2 separate regions of the Homo sapiens genome follow, and region 2 is linked to region 1. The links come from fine-mapping of genetic effects on gene expression. Tissue or cell type: whole blood. Region 1 holds a variant in brackets; the other region holds the start of a gene. All regions are shown on one strand. Distances are between the middles of the regions.

Region 1 (8,178 bases):
CTGCTCTGTGAAAGACACTGTCAAGAGAATGAGAAGACAAGTCACGGATGGGGAGAAAATATTTGGAAAAGACATGATAAAGGACTATTATCCAAAATACACCCAAAAACTCTTAAAATTCAACAGTAAGAAAACAAACGACCCGCATTTTGGGAGGCTGAGATGGGAGGATCGCTTGAAGCCAGGAGTTTGAGACCAGCCTGGGCAACCAAGTAAGACCTCACCTGTACCAAAAAAAAAAAAAAACTAGTGAGACATGGTGGCACATGCCGGTAATCCCAGCTACTTGGGCAACTGAGGTAGGAGGATCACCTGAGCCCTGGAGTTAAACGCTGCAGTAAGCTGTGATTGCACCACTGTACTCCAGCCTGGATGACAGATCCTGTCAGAAAGAAAAAGAAAGAAAGAGAGAAAGAGAGAAGAGAGGAGAGAGAGAGTGAGAGAGAGAGAGAAGAGAAGAAAGAAGGAAGGAAAGAAGGAAAGGAAGGGAGCAAGGGAGGATGGAAGGCAAGAAGGAAGGAAGGAAGGGAGGGAGGAAGGGAGGGAGGGAAAGAAGGAAAAGAGAGAGGAGGGGAAGAAGAAAGGGAGGAAGGAAAAAAGAAAGAAAAACAATCCAATTTTTAAAATGGGCGAAAGATCAACCTCACCAACCCATAGAATGTACAACACCGAGAGCAAATGCTAATGTGAACTATGGACTTTGGGTGACAATGATGTGTCACTGTAGGTTCATCACATGTAACAAATGGATCATTCTGGTGGGGGAATGTCCATAGTGGGGGAAGCTGTGCCTGTGTAGAGGCGGAGGGTAATGGGAATTCTCTGAACTTTGCACTCAATTTTTCTGTGAATCTAAAACTGTTCTAAAAAATAAAATCTATTAAAATCTAACAGCAATACAGGCACTCCATGGCGCCCACCAACCCAGTCTGCAGAGGCCAGGGAGCGGGTAAGCACAGTAACGAGCTTTCCCTGAGGACGTGGCTTCTGTGCTGACTGCAGTGCGTGGAAGGGCGGCTGCCCCATCACGAGGTGGCCCCTACTCACCTCCCCCATCAGTAACATGAGAGATGAAGAGCCTGCCTTGCCAGTCTTTTTATTTCCAAAAGAAATTGGAAAATCTTAATTTTAAAATAAAATCATAACTAATGATCGTAAATCATTCCAAATATTTTTCTTACAAACTTGGCCTAGGCAATCACAATATAGGACCATAAAACCCATCTGAGGACCCAACTCAGCCCACAGGCCATTGGCATCAGCCTGTGCTCTAAGCGAGGGCGTATAATGTTAACCAACATGGGAGTGAGTTGGTAGAGGGAAGACCAACCTCCCTGCTCATTCAGGAACCTCCATCAACCAGCATTTGTGTTACTCTTCTCTCTGGCACAAGAACCACGCTCATCAACAAGAATGTTCATCAGACTTTGACTGTTGATTCCCCCACAAAGGTTCCCTTTGTTCTGCCAGCATGTGTGGTAAGCTGTCCTCCTGAGCTTGCTGCTGGAAGGAACAGGGCAGCCCTTTTAAAGGACACACATCACCTCTAGCCAGCTATGCATCTTAGATCACCCAGAATGACATCAGGGCTTCTTGCTCAAGATTGTGCAACTTTCTGATAATTTTGAGTCTCTGGAGCACGCTTGGACCCTAGGTTGGTCCAAAGTATTATTGCCCCTGAGTTTGAAAGTAAGAATAACAAACGCCTTCAATGCACAAAAGAGAGCACATTGCCAGCCAGAAGTGTTTCTAATTCTCGCCCTTTCCCTGGGTGGAAAAGCAGCCAGAGTTGAGCATACTTTACCTTTGTTCAAGGTCAAAGAACCTAATGGATGCCTGAAACCACGTTCCACCAGCCCCAAGGAGCAGAGAGATAAGCTGCTTACAATCGGACTCTGATAGCAAGTGGAACAGGAAGGTCACGGAAAAGGTTCAGATGGTTCTGTGTCAGGGGAGGGAGGCAGAGATTATTTCTGACCTTAGGGATCACAGAGGGCAAATTTGAAGTAGATGTTTGCTGAACTGCCCCACTTTACAGAGGTGGAGGTACAAGCTGGTCCGAGCACACCGAGCATCCACAGAAGAAGGCAAACACCTTCTGGGCCCACTGTGCCATCATTCCACGCTTTATGCCTAGCAGCCCACTTAGTTCTCACAGTCACCCTATGATGTGATACTGCTATTACTGCCATATTATGAATGAGGAAACTGAGGCATAGGGCAGTTAGGGAAGGTGCCCAGGTTCACACAACTACCAACGTCCAGAGGCGGGATTTGATCCAGCCTGTTTGGGTCCAGAGTTCACGCTTTTTAATAACTGGGCCATGCAGCCTCCCTTAAGAATGAGCCAGAAAATGGATTTCCCTTAAATACATCAAAGATGTTTCCTACCGGAGGAGATCATCCTAGGCTTTTGTGCTGCCCCCTCCACCTCTGCCCTTCCCTTGTTGGGCTCCAGTCCTGACTTGGCCCCCACTCCATGCCACCCTGAGTCCTTCTGTGTCCCCAGCCACCTGTTCCCCTTCTCCAGCTTCCACTTCAGACCTTCGTCAGCCTCTGCAGCCTACTGCCCCACGTCCATGTCTCAACACCCACCTGCAAACTCAGCCAATGTGCAGGGACTCCTGTTCTCTTCCCACACATCCAGGGCCCCTCCCTCCTCCAAGACCACGCACAGTCCAGTGCTTCATGCGCTCTCCCCTAGCCCCTTCCTCTGCTCCCCGATTCTTCAGCCTCTCTCTCCAAAAGCTTCTTCTCGTCATGCTTTAAACAATTTCAAGTCTATACCACTAAGAAGAAGGAAGAAGAGGAGGGGGAGGAAGAGAAAGAGGAAGAGACAAAGACTGTGAGAGAAAAAGGAGGCAGATGAGGAGGAAGAGGGAAAATGAGAAGGAAAAGAAGGAGAAATGTAACCACTGCTTGCACTTTGCACACCATATCTTCAGCTTAATGTCCTGGAAACCGTGAGGTAAGTACTGTCAATATCATCTGCACATCACAGGTGTGATCACTGAGGTCAGTGTGGTCAGGTAACCTACAGCAGGCACACAGTGCACGGGCAGACGGAGCCCAGGCTCTGCACCAACCAAAGGCGGCTTACCAAGGGCACCTCCTTGCCTCTCCCCATGCACCTCCCCAACAACCCTTAAAGGAAAGGAGCTCGGGTGCCAGGAGGCAGCAGCATCCCTGGGCTCCTTGGGCTGCGTTGGGCTTCTCAGCGTCCATTCT[CAG/G]AGAAGACTCCACTCCTCCAGGCAGAGCCTCCCGGGACCGATGCTGTCACTCACCTGGGGGGCTGAAGGAGGCCTCCCATGTCATGGAATTGTCCCGCGTATACAGCTCCACAGAGCCTCTGCCACCGCTGGAGCAGACTTTGAACCCATTGGAGATGACCTGTCCCCCATACGCAGAAGGGATTGGTCTAGACTGTTCTCCTTGTGTCTTCCAGAAAAAAGAAAACGTGACCCCTGAGGAAAGTCACAAGATCAGTTATTCACAGAGAGCAGGGGACTTGACTTCTCGCAAGCACATGGTTCTCTTTGCTTTTTATTTTTCATTCGAAAAGCATTTTGTCCCCATTCTAAAGGCAGTGTATGTTCAGTTCAGAAAATCCAGACAGTGATATTTGCTCATGTTTATTAAGGGCTCACACAGTGCCAGGCACTTTTCTAGGAGTTTGAAATGAATTCTCGCCTTTTAAAAAGTACAAAAATCCTGCTTCATCCCCACTATACAGATGAAGGAACTGAGGCTCATTCACTCAAGGTCACCAGTGACTGATGAAGATCGCTGCAGCCCCAGGCAGTTCCCCGCCCCCACTCCCCGGGATCATGCAAATGTGAAGACCTACACCCTCCAGGTTTCTCTCCTATTCCTCCAGAAATGTGGTTAGGGCGGCTCCTTCCTAAGCCTCTTCTATAAATAGATTTTACAAAGACACGAACCATCTCAGGCACACTGGTTTATAAACAACATTTCTATAAAGTTTACTCCACCGTGAACTTCCTCCGATGTCCATAAATACACTGTCACGTTGTCACTTTTATGTCTGCACAGCGGCGCATTCTAAACAAGCACCACAGTCTTTTTTTTAAACAGCAATCCCCTGTTGCTGGATCTTAAGGTTTTCTTCCACTTTTTGAAGAAATTTTCAAACAGAACTTGAAGCAAATTCTTTTGCATATCTCAGACTATATGCCTTTAGGATACATTCCCAAGAGGGCATTTCTTGCCAAAGGGAAGCACACTTTTAAGGTTGTTGATATCTTCAATTGTTCATTTCCCGCAGTTGGATACAGAGGGGGCAGCAGCTGAAACCTTTTTCAAGACTCTAGTCTGCACATTCGTGGTAAGTCCTGACCCCAGGCCCACGCTGCGGGGGAGGAGGGATTGCACCTGGACTAAATGGTCTGAGCGACGCATGTTAGCATGAATGAGCTGGCTCATTAGTTCATGTTGCCTCCGCCACCAGCAGCAGATAGGACATACCTCAAATGTGTTGTGGCAGTATATTACAGTAAATTATGACAATTAGATATTGTACCTTTGTGGGTGCAAAGTCCTACTGTGATCAATGTAAACATGGAAAAACAATGTAATTTTTATGATCCTCATGTGGGATTTCTCCATGTTTTTACTATAAGAGGAACTGCAGGCCGGGCGCGGTGGCTCACGCCTGTAATCCCAGCACTTTGGGAGGCCGAGGCAAGTGGATCACCTGAGGTCAGGAGTTTGAGACCAGCCTGGCCAGCATAGTGAAATGCCGTCTCTACTAAAAATATAAAAATTGGCCGGGTGTGGTGGCATGCACCTGTAGTCCCAGCTACTCAGGAGGCTGAGGCAGGAGAATTGTTTGAACCACGGAGGCAGAGGTTGCAGTGAGCCGAGACCACGCCATTGCACTCCAGCCTGGGCAACAGAGCAAGACTCTGTCTCAAAAAAAAGAGGGTCCAGGCATGGTGGCTCACGCCTGTAATCCCAGCACTTAGGGAGGCCGAGGCGGGTGGATCATGAGGTCAGGAGATCGAGACCATCTTTACTAACATGGTGAAACCCCGTCTCTACTAAAAATACAAAAAATTAGCCAGGCGTGGTGGCAGGTGCCTGTCGTCCCAGCTGCTCAGGAGGCTGAGGCAGGAGAATGGCGTGAACCCGGGAGGCAGAGCTTGCAGTGAGCCGAGATTGTGCCACTGCACTCCAGCCTGGGCGACAGAGCGAGACTCCGTCTCAAAAAAAAAAAAAGAGGAACCGCAAAAGCCCAGCTCCTGAGCATGCCCCGCACCCACCCCGACCGCTGTTCTGCACTCACACCCACTGGTCTGGGGGCCGGGCTCTCTGCTGAAGGGGAAGTCAGGGCAGGGCCTGGCTGGAGGCTCTGTGGAGCTTGGGCCTCTCTGGCGTTGCATTTTGGAGCTCTGGTTGTCTCTATTCCACTTCTCTGCCTCCAGTAGCATCTGCCCACCTGGCCCTTCTTTGTGTGTAAACTCCAGTGTGTGTGTGTGTGTGTGTGTGTGTGTGTGTGTGTGTGTGTGTGAGACACTAGCTGCCTGTCTGGATTCTGCCCCTGACAGCTGGAAATACATCCAGCTGCCTCACCCCCGCCAAGCCTGGCCCAGGCACATGGGTAAGAGGGTTCAGTGGTGCTGAGAGAGAACACGTGCCCAGAACTGGTCCAAAGAGGCCCATGATGGGACGGTGGGTGCAGGGGAGAGGCAGAAGGATATTTGCCCTGGGCTTTATTTCTATAAATGGTGCCAAATTTAGACTTTAGACCTTACCTTCACATGAGGTTATGGACACAGTCTTAGAGAGTCACTGAATTCAAAGAAGACATTTGTCATTCGTGTATAAGGCAGTGTCTCATTGCCCACCATGCTTTCTGTGATGCCTTATGAATTAACATATCTGTTAGAAGTCCTTCAAATGTCTTGTGACAATATATCAAGACAACTATACCTTTGTGAGTTCAAAGCCCTCGCAGGATTCAGGAAAAACACAGCATACATTTTATAACCCTGGTATGGAATTTCCCCATTTTATTTTTTAAGAGAAGAAGAACCTCAAAAAAATTGGAAGAGGCCTGGACCTTTCTGGACCTCTGAGAGGCTACGGGGTACAACTCCAAGCCCTGCGGCATCTGTCCTTAGGGCTCCTGGGAAAGAAAACAGCCTTCCCGAGTGCCCAGTAATGTGGGTTACCGCAAAAGGGTGCGACTGTGGGGGTTGCACAGAGGCCTGGGGCAGCTGACGCTGGTGTCCCCAGACCTGGCTGGCACCACCCACACCCACCTCATGAACGGGCTTCCTGCAACACCTGCCTTGGGCGCTGAGGGGTACAGAAGCCAGGACAACCCCCCGAGCCTCCCGCCACTTCCCTGCCTTGGGCGCTGAGGGGTACAGAAGCCAGGACAAACCCCCAAGCCTCCCGCCACTTCCCTGCACACTCAGAAACAACCCGTTTCACAAGGAAGTCAGCACAGTGCGTTGTGAAATTTTTGTTATGAAACAAATTCCCAGTAGGATTCATGGAAGTTAATTTTTTCCAAAAACTTTGCTGCATTTTAAAATTTCTTTCACTCAATTCAAAATGAGCCTGTCTTGGCCAAATGTCTTTCTGTTCAGGAAGAAAAATAAAAATAAAAAAATTCCATGTGGTGTTAGGTAAGGGTAGATCGAAGGCCATCCATGGTGCCGGTAACCAAGCTTTTCATTTAGTTAACTCAACGCACAAAACAATGACTTCTACCTGAGCAACAGCTTATATTTAAGTATCAATTCACGTCTTCATAGAGTCATAACAAATTCACAATGTGCCTTCCATATTAGCCTTTTAAGGAACTTTGCCTCATGGAGTTGGGCCATCAATACAACAAGGAAAAATCTGAAGGAAAAAGAAACAAGCACAATATTGACAAACTAATTTGATAATTTTTTCTTGTTATAAGCACTGAATCCTAAAACATCCAAAAAATAAAATGAGGAAAGATCTTTTTTGACAAGACAAAAAAAGGAAAAATAAAAATCTAGGAGTCATAAGAAAAGACTAATAAATTTAAGTGCATAAATATAATATTCTGCAAGGCAAAAAAAATTACCGTAACAAACTCAAAGACAGACAACCATCCAGGGAAAGAATATTTGTCACAGATTTACTAGATGAGAAGTTAATTCCCTTCATATGTAGAGACCACGGCATAAGACAAAGGATGATTTCTAGCAGGTGAGGAGAACTTATATGGGCTGAGGTTAAATCCTCCCAACAACCTGTGAACTAGGGGTCATTACTGTCCCCATTTCACAGGGGAGAAAACTGAAGCACAGGGAGGTGCGGTAACTTGCCCAAGGCCACACAGCTGGTCTGGGACGAGTCAGGATTTGAACCCAGGCAGCCTGGATCTGGAGTCTGCGTTTGTAATCACTGTGCTGTGGCTCCCGCCCTTCCCTTGGAGATCATGCATGCAGCTGCCCTTCCCAGGCCCACAGACTCAGCACCCTGCAAGAGCATGATCAACACATGCCAACAAAGCAGCGGCCCAGGAGGGCGCGAGGTTATACAGGCATGCGGGCCCGCCTGGCGTCTGTACCCACACCCCAGTCACCACAGACCACACAGCTGAAGGCTGACTCGGGCTGGGCCTATCAGAATCACCAGGACTGACCCAGGCATGGGCAGGCTCACCTGACAAAACCAGAACTTGGAGCTTCTGAGCGGATGCTGCTCCCACACCAGGAAAGCAGCCTTGAGAACAGAGCTGGAGCAAGGCAGGGACAGGGTCTGATGGCCGTTCTGGCACCCGGACCAGCCTGTGGCCCACCACGTTTCCCAAAGAGCCACGAGGATGCGCGTCCCATACGCTTTCACGCAAGACTCAGAGCCCGTTTCCCGGCTGCCTCATGGGCCCTGTGCCTGGTGTGGCCAGGAGGAGACACTCGTTTGCATATCGAGCCTTTAAAATTCTCACTCCACACCCCCACCCCAAAGCCCCACTCTAATCGCTTCCTGAAATGACTGGGGCTGTAGGACACCCACTTTCCCCATGGGAATAAGAAATTCTTCCCTTTCCCCTTTCCCTGCTCCTCTAACAAAGCCACACGCAGGCCATCCTGGGGAATGGCCACCACCTTCAGTCACAGCGACAGACAGCAGAGAGTCCTGCAGGCTGAGGAAAACTGGAAAATGCTG
Region 2 (8,178 bases), 28 kb after region 1:
CTACACATGTGAATTGTGTGGACACATGTGTGGATGCATGTGGACACATGTTGATGCATGCAGGTGTGTGCATATGTGTGGATGCTTTTGCATGTGTATGCATGTGTGTCAACATGTCTGATGTGTATGGATGTGAGTGGTGTGTGGACATGTGATGTGTGTTGGCACATGTGGCCATATGTTGACACATGTAGACATCTGGTGTGTGTGTGTATGCATATGTGTCACCATGTGTGGATGTGTGTGATTTGTGTTGGTGCATGTGGGCATATGTTGACACATGTAGACATGTAGCATGGGGGGGCATGTGGACACATGTGCATGTGTGAGAATGCGTGTGGGCTCTGTATCATAAGCAGAAGTCCGGGGAGAACCCGCACAGCTTTTCTCCAACACTGAGCAGCAGTGAGGGCCATGCTGGGGCCTCGGGGGCCACCTGCCTGCTGCAGGAGCCGGGTGCACAGCTCTGCCTGACCGCCCTGCAGTTCGAGGGGCTACCCCTCTCCTCCTCTCAGTCCTCTCCCCTACTGGAGCCCAGCCCAAGCCATGAGGCCTGCATTCACGAGAAGCAAGGTGTCCAAGGTGGACACGTCCTCTCTTTAACGCAGCGCTGGGCATGTTTATTCGTTCCCAAGCCACAGGAGCCCTTGTTTCATTCAGCGATTTGGCTGAGGAGAGGGGAATGTGTGGAAACTCACAGCTTCCACACCTTTTTAAAAGGAGCTCCCTATGCATGTGGACGAAACAGAAGTGGCAGCGTCCCCACCCCCGAGTTGGTGAATGGAGGTGGTGGCGAGGCGACGATGCCTGGAACATCCTGGCATGGGGCTGCCGGGCAGCCGGAAAGGAGACAGAGGCTGAGGGCACAGCCCCTGGCCCTAGACCCCAGCAGGCTCCTGGTGCTCCATCCAGGAAAGGGGCTCTCCCTGGAGGCCTGGGTATCGCCCTGGGATCTGCCCACAGTGCTGGCCTGAGTCCATTTGTGGTTGATCATTAAAGGCTGGTTCCCAGCCAGGCCCAGTGGCTCACATCTGTAATCCCAACACTTTGGGAGGCCGAGGTGGTTGGATCACCCGAGGTCAGGAGATCGAGACCAGCCTGGCCAACATGGCAAAACCTTGTGTCTACTAAAAATACAAAAATTAGCCAGGCGTGGTGGCATGGGCCTGTAATCCCAGCTGCTTGGAAGGCTGAGGCACAAGAATCGCTTGAACCCGGGAGGCAGAGGTAGCAGAGAGCCGAGACTGAGATCTCACCACTCAACTCCAGCCTGGGTGACAGAGTGAGACTTTGTCTCAAAAAATAAAAACAAAAATAATTTTTTTAAAAAGGCTGATTTCCCATCAGAGACAGGCAGGGCCATACAATAGCGCTCGGGGGGGTGCCCAGCCAAGCTCTGGTGGGGCGGGGGCAGAGGCTGTGCTCACAACAGGCTTCCCAGCAGGGGTTCAGGCACTAGCAGGGTCTCCTCCCCACCTCCTGCAACTTCCAGCAGGGAGCAACAGCCCAGTGACTGCCTGCTGCTCCCAGAAAGCCTCGTCTTCCCATCCCTGCCCCTGGCTGACCAGAACGTGTGCCCACACTCTTAACAGCGAAGGGTGTGTGCCTCCCTGTCTTCCCGAGAGAAGCCCCGTCCTGATGCTTCCTGGTTGGGTGTCACAATGGCCAATGGAATGTGGCTCTGGGGCTGGAGCAAGGGTGGCCCTCTATCCCGAGTCCCACTCATCGGCTGCTCCAGGCTAAGCTGGTCAGCACTCTGAGGCTGGAGGTCCCGAGACCCTGCTATGGGCCAGAGCTCCAACTCCCCACCAGTGAATCTGCCCTGAAGACATGAGATGGGTGTGGTGGCTCACATCTGTAATCCCAGCACTCTGGGAGGCCAAGGCGGGCGGATCACCTGAAATCAGGAGTTCGAGACCAGCCTGGCCAACATAGTGAAACCCTGTCTCTACTAAAAATACAAAAAAAAAAAAAGCTGGGTGTAGTGGTGCACACCTGTGATCCCAGCTACTCAGGTGGCTGAGGCAGGAGAATTGCTTGAACCCGGGAGGCAGAGGTTGCGGCCACTGCACTCCAGCCTGGGCAACAGAGCAAGACTCCATCTCAAAAAGAAAAAAAGGAAGAAAGGAAGAAAGAGAGAAAGAGAGAAAGAAAGAGGCAGAAGGCATTCAAATGAAGATCATATTTCCTTAATCACAATGTTTCATATGACCCAGCTCAAGGGGCCCAGAACCACTTCTCCATCCACCGCTCAGCCGGTGAGGGGTAGCAGAGCTGCCCAGGGTCACAGTGTGTGGTGAGGCAGTGAGGTCGGGGACCAGGAGCCCAACAAGGGCCATTCGCTGATGCCTCAGAGATGAACAAGTGGGCTGTTCCTGAGATACCTGCACTAGGCAGGGGGAGAGCGGTGCTCAGAGTGAGAAGGAAACACTCTTACCTGGATGGTCCTGCGATCTGGAGTAGACGCCACGCACCTGCGCACAAAAGACCACAGTGTGAGACACACTCAGGGAAAGCCTCCGGAGAAACCAAGCCTGTCGCCATCCTGGCCACTTGGGGACATTACCTGAAAGTTGTAATAAAATAGCAGCAGCCAGGAGTACCAGCAGCACAGCCGCAGCAGCTTTTCCATGGCTCTCTCGGAGGTCAAAGCTCGGAGCCAAGTGAAATTCCTGAGGGTCTGTGAGAACGGGACCTCTTAACCTTCACTTCCTTGGAAAAGGGACATTTTCACAGGTTCCAGGGGAGAAAATTTCTGTCTCCTTAAAGTTTGTGAAACACAGCTGTCTTGGAGACCTAATGGGTGTTTCTTCCTCGTCTCAAAACTTGAGATTCTTCAGTGATCAATAAACACGTTGCGATGACCAGAGCAGCTGTGGAATGCAGGGAGGAGAAACCCAAACCCGACTCGCAGTCCTGGGAAAGCAATCCCAGGTCACCACTGTGACCGCGACCTGCGCCCGGGGACGGGAGGCTGTTTGTCCTGCGGTATTTTCTTTTTATTTCAAGAGCCTCCGTTTGTCTCAGTCAGGTTTGGAGCTTCCCTTTTCTCTGAAGAAGGTTTTGTGCGTGGTTTTCCCCTGGAGCGCCCGCCTGCTCCTCGGGCTTGTCCTGCGGCCGCTCTCGAGCTCCTTCTGGTCTGGCTCAAGTTCACACCTCCGTCCTGCTCTCTGGGTGGAGGGGGAGTGAGTGATGTAAGTCTCTCTCCTCAAACTTTGTTCTGTTCTCCTTTTCTATTTATATCCCCACTGCTGTGTCCTTCCTGGGTCCTAACTCCAGCCTCTTAACAACAGCTGAAATATTTCCAGGATCTCAGGCTCAGAATCAAACCAAACAGACATGGTGTGTGGTGTGTGTGCGTGTGCGTGTGTGTGTTACTGATGCCTTCTGGTCAGCACCTTCAAAGTCGGCATAAATATTAATAAATACAAAATGCAAAACAAACCATAAACTCTGTTTAGATCTGAGTCTTGTTTGCCCCCAAAAGAGAATGAAGTTGACAGAGGGATGGAAAAGAGAAAGCAGCACACCCACTGTGCCCTCCATATTAAGCGCTGACCACATTTTTCTCTCTAATCCTTTCGGACGTCAGTGAAAGCTACGGAATTAATTACAAGGTACGCTGCGCAATTACACCATCCCACATATACCCCCACCCCAGCACCAGGAGGATGTTCTCAATGGGATAGAAAAGAGTCAGCCCCTTCGCCAGACATGCCTCAGTTTACCCAAGACCAAAGTTTATCCGATCTACTCCAAATACACGTGGACACACAGAGACACACACCCTAGAATTGCAGTCACAGCTATATTTGCTATGTGATTTAAGTAATATTTACCGCTTCATACTTTCTCCAACATTCACCAGCTGTGCTCCTAGGCAAATTACTTGATCTCTCTTAGTTTTCGAATTCCTCATCCACAAAATGGGGGTTAATAGTTCCTCCTCCTCAGGGCTGTAACAATAAATTAGAGGACAGATCCAAGGCTCTTCAGGCAGTACTTGGAAAATATGTGGCACTCAGTAAATGCTGCTATTTTCTATTAAGAAAAATTATCACTCAGTAAATGTTAGCTATGATTATTATTAGCAAGTATAACATAACACCCAGTAAATGTTAGCTGATACAGTTATCTCAATTGTCCTGACTTTAAATGGGAATTAAGAATCCTGAATCCAACATACTTCCTAAAGAGGATAAGAAAATGACTTCCAATCTCTGTGGGACAGAAAAAAAGAAAGTGCTGTCAAAACGTTAGGTGATTATTTTTAACTTGTGCCTGCAGCCTACAACCGCTCAGATCCTCTGATAGCCTGAGCCTCTCTGTGGAGCTGGAGAAGGGTTCCAGAGAGTTCCATCTCCTAGCAATGGAGAAACTGTGAACTCCAAAGGCCGGGGGCTGTCTGTAATAACGACCTTTATCCTGTTGCTCAGGCTGGTCGGCTTCAGGGAAAACTAATTTACAACCTTTATCTCTGCCATTTCATCAGCTCTCCAGTCCCCCACTGCCTCTCGCTGGAAGAGGTGAAGGGAGGGACAGGCAGCTGCAGGTTTTTCTCAGCTCCAGTTTTAACCTGGAAGAATTCAACAGATTGCTGAATATGCGGACCTTTCCCATCTCCATGACCGAACAAAGCCAGCATGGTTTCTTTTCATCATAAAATTGTCATCAGATAATGGGAGACACCCCGATTCAATGACTGTAATAAAAACTAGATAGCAAAGCAATTCAGCAGAGCTTGCCCTGCAGGCATCTGCACTCATCCTCAGACTCACTCTGACTCTCCATCCCGGACTACAGTCTCGTGCCTCATGCTATTTGCCTGCGTCCTGTCTCAGGCCTTGTTCAGAGGCCCAGATGAAGAGCCCGCCTCCATGTAAAGCAGCGTGTCCTGAAGCCTGGAGATTTGAGACAGGGCCTTGAGTGGTCCATGGGCCTGGAACCAAGCAACTCTGATGTCTCTGAGCATCTCATTCCATCACCCAAACGTCGGGGTGTTCGGCACCCAAACATCACCTTGACAGCAGGTCTCCCTCCCCCTAAAGCCCTCCCCTGCTGTATTTTCTCGATCCCACTAACCACGATCCAATGTACTTCATATCTTAGACGTTTATTTCATTTATTGTCAGTCTCTCCCCACCGAGGCGTAGGCCCCATGAGAGCAGAGACCTTCTTTCTGCCTGTTCGCTCTGCACCCCAGCCCCGAGAACAGGGCTTGGTACTTGGTGAGCACTCAGCGTTTGTCACCAAACCCAGCCTGGCTCTGCCCTCCCGCAGCAAAGCCAAACATGGACGTCGGGATTGCAGTGAGAGGAAGTGAGGCATTTAGAGCAGGGCACCAGGCGAGCAGAACCTGGCAGCTCACACTTCAGACCTGAACTCCCCGATGGCTGATGGGGGAGGGTTTTTCAAGGTGGAGAGGCAGAGGTTACAGGCTAAGTCCCACATGAATAATACCTGGAGGCTGCACATTGGTTTGACCTAAAAAGCTAGGACATCTTGAACTGGGGGCCCACAGGTCATATAGGTAGTAGATTCAGAGGTTTTCTGATTTGTGATTGGTTAAGAAGGCAAGGCTTTGTCAAAAAATTTGAGATCAGCAAAAAAGAATGTTAGCTCTGGCCTGTGGGCATGACCTCCTCCAGGCCCCTCAGGAAGAAATTTAGAACAAAGAACAGTGGTGGGCCCGGAGGGGTGGATCCCAACACTTTGGGAGGCTGAGGCAGGTGGATCACCTGAGGTCAGGGGTTCGAGACCAGCCTGGCCAACATGGCGAAACCCCGTCTCTACTAAAAATACAAAAATTAGCCGGGTGTGGTGGTGCATACCTGTACTCAGGAGGATACTTGGGAGGCTGAGGCAAGAGAATCGCTTGAACCCAGGAGGCGGAGGTTGCAGTGAGCTGAGATTGAGCCACTGCACTCCAGCCTGGGCAACAGAGTGAGACTCTGTCTCAAAAAACAAAGAACAAAGAACGGTGGTGGAGTTCAGCTCTCCGCTCCCCCATATCAGAGGTCTGTAAGTCAACAGATCCATTTGGTGGGGGTCCAGGTTCTGAAAAACAACTCCGGGTCGTTTGTTACGATGTTGTCTTTAGTTTCTACAGGGAAGCAATGAATTCCTGACTCTAACTCTCTTGACTATTGTTTCTCGCCACTATTAACTTCTTGCTTCCCAAGTTGCTCATGTATTTCTCAGGGCTAGCTAGGTGGCTGGAATTCCCCTTCAAGGAACCCAAGATTTTATTGTATTTATTTATTTATTTTGAGATGGAGTCTCATTCTGTTGCCCAGGCTAGAGGGCAGTGGCACGATCTCAGCCCACCACAACCTCACTGAGCTCCCAGGTTCAAGCAATTCTCCTGCCTCAGCCTCCTGAGTAGCCAGGATTACAGGCACCCGCCACCACACCCGGCTAATTTTTTTGTATTTTTAGTAGAGGCGGAGTTTCACCATGTTGGCCAGGCTGGTCTCGAACTCCTGACCTCGTGATCCGCCCACCTCAGCCTCCCAAAGTGCTGGGATTACAGGTGTGAGCCACCGCGCCCGGCCCGATTTTCTTTTTTCTATGCTTGGGTGGGGAGTGCCCGGCAGGCAGCCTCACATTCAACATTCAAGTCATAGTTTTGGGCCACATGCATGTGTACTTTACTTAAAGAATGAAAAACATTGTTACGCTTTGGTAAAATATTTCAGACTTTACTGGGAGGATGCTAATTAAACATTAAAAATGAGACCTTACATTGTGATTAGGCTCCACTCAAAATTTTACAAGGACATAAAGTGTGACGCCAGCTACCAATGGGAACGTAACTGGATTATTTGCAAAGCTGATGCCCTGCGCACAACAGAGCATGTTTCCTGGTGCTGAGCAGCTCAGATGTCCCAGGAGGACAGATCGGGCCTGAACAAAGAATTCTGTGGAGTGGCCCAAATGCTGAGGGAGAGCTGGACAAGCTGTGAGCACAGGAGTTCCTGATGCCTGATTCACACCAATCCAAGGTGCGCCTCCCTCCAGCTCAGACCCTCCCATACGCCGGCATATTTGTGAGAGGCAGCAAGAGTTGTGTGTCCATCACGTTTACTCCTGTGTAGATAAGCAAGGCGGAGCAGCAGTTCGTAAGCAGTGTGCTAGGAGGGGTGTGCAGCACACAACGTACATGGAAATGAACGGTGTTAGAAGCCTGGGGGCGAATTCACTGTGAAAGTCACACGAAGGAGTTCAAGAATTCTTTCTCTGAGTGGTTAAGGGATGGGACATTCTGGAAAGAAGCTATGGAATGGGCTAAAGCTCCGATGCAGCATGCCATGGACCATGGGCGTGTGTTGTTTCTACCAGCCCAGCCTCCCCTCCGGCTCCTGTCGGCTTTCCTTTTGAAGGACGTTTCTTCCACCGACCCGTGAGCTCAGACGGGACTGTCAGAAGCTGCAGGTGTTGCGGGGGAGTTGTGACCCAGTGGGAACACTTGCAGCTCCTCCATACCACAGGCACTGTGAATGGCCCAAAGGTGTACATGTGACCCACTCAGAACCAATCAGTGTCTTCCCCGGGATCAATAGATTGACCATGGGAGAGAAAAGACTCCCTCCGCCACTGCAGTTGCTAATCCAGAATGGTCTTCAATCAAGGCTGGTGATGCCCATTTTTCCCACAACAAAGAAAAGAATTACACAGAGCTGAAGATAACAAGCAAACATAGAGACTCTAGCCGCCTAGCCTTGGAGAGGGTCAAGAGAAAACCTGATGCTGTCAGCTGAGCCCTTGGATCCTACAAGACCTAAAGCCAGCATTCCCTGACAGGCACCGAGAAATTTATGTTAGGCTCAAGCAAGTTTGAGCTTGGTTTCTGTCCCTGGTCATTAAGAGTCCTGGTCAGTGACACAGATTTGAGAAACCACAATTAATTATATATTCAATGAAGAGTAGGCACAAGTAGGGAAAGTGGCAGGGGCTGAGGCTGGAGAGAGTCAACAACATAATCAAGAGGGCCTGTGTACGGGGCCCCTTTCATTCACCTCTTTAAATCTTCTCTGCCCTACTTCTTATCCACCTACCAGTAGGATGATCAGCTTCACACTGGCTTCCACCAGCGTTGCTCCTGATGGCGATGCCCTCAGAAGCCAGAGCATGCTCCACCCTGGGGTCTCTGACTCAGCAGATGGGAGGCCCGGGAAA

The links. PIP is the estimated chance that this variant, and not a neighbour inherited with it, causes the effect.
Region 2: ADGRD1 starts here. The variant in region 1 is fine-mapped to the expression of ADGRD1 in whole blood (TOPMed, PIP above 0.99).

What each region holds. Positions count from the first base shown.
Region 1 is chr12:130,977,170-130,985,347 of GRCh38, reverse strand. It overlaps ADGRD1 (adhesion G protein-coupled receptor D1), which reads right to left. Exons shown (of 25, transcript NM_198827.5): 5 at 3,285-3,464. Among named protein-coding and RNA genes, the nearest start is that of ADGRD1-AS1, 13 kb to the left of the region's middle. RefSeq lists an enhancer at 4,812-5,802. The variant CAG/G (reference allele first, on the strand shown) is at 3,229.
Region 2 is chr12:130,948,920-130,957,097 of GRCh38, reverse strand. It overlaps ADGRD1 (adhesion G protein-coupled receptor D1), which reads right to left and starts at 3,191. Exons shown (of 25, transcript NM_198827.5): 1 at 2,567-3,191; 2 at 2,438-2,474. The coding sequence starts at 2,632.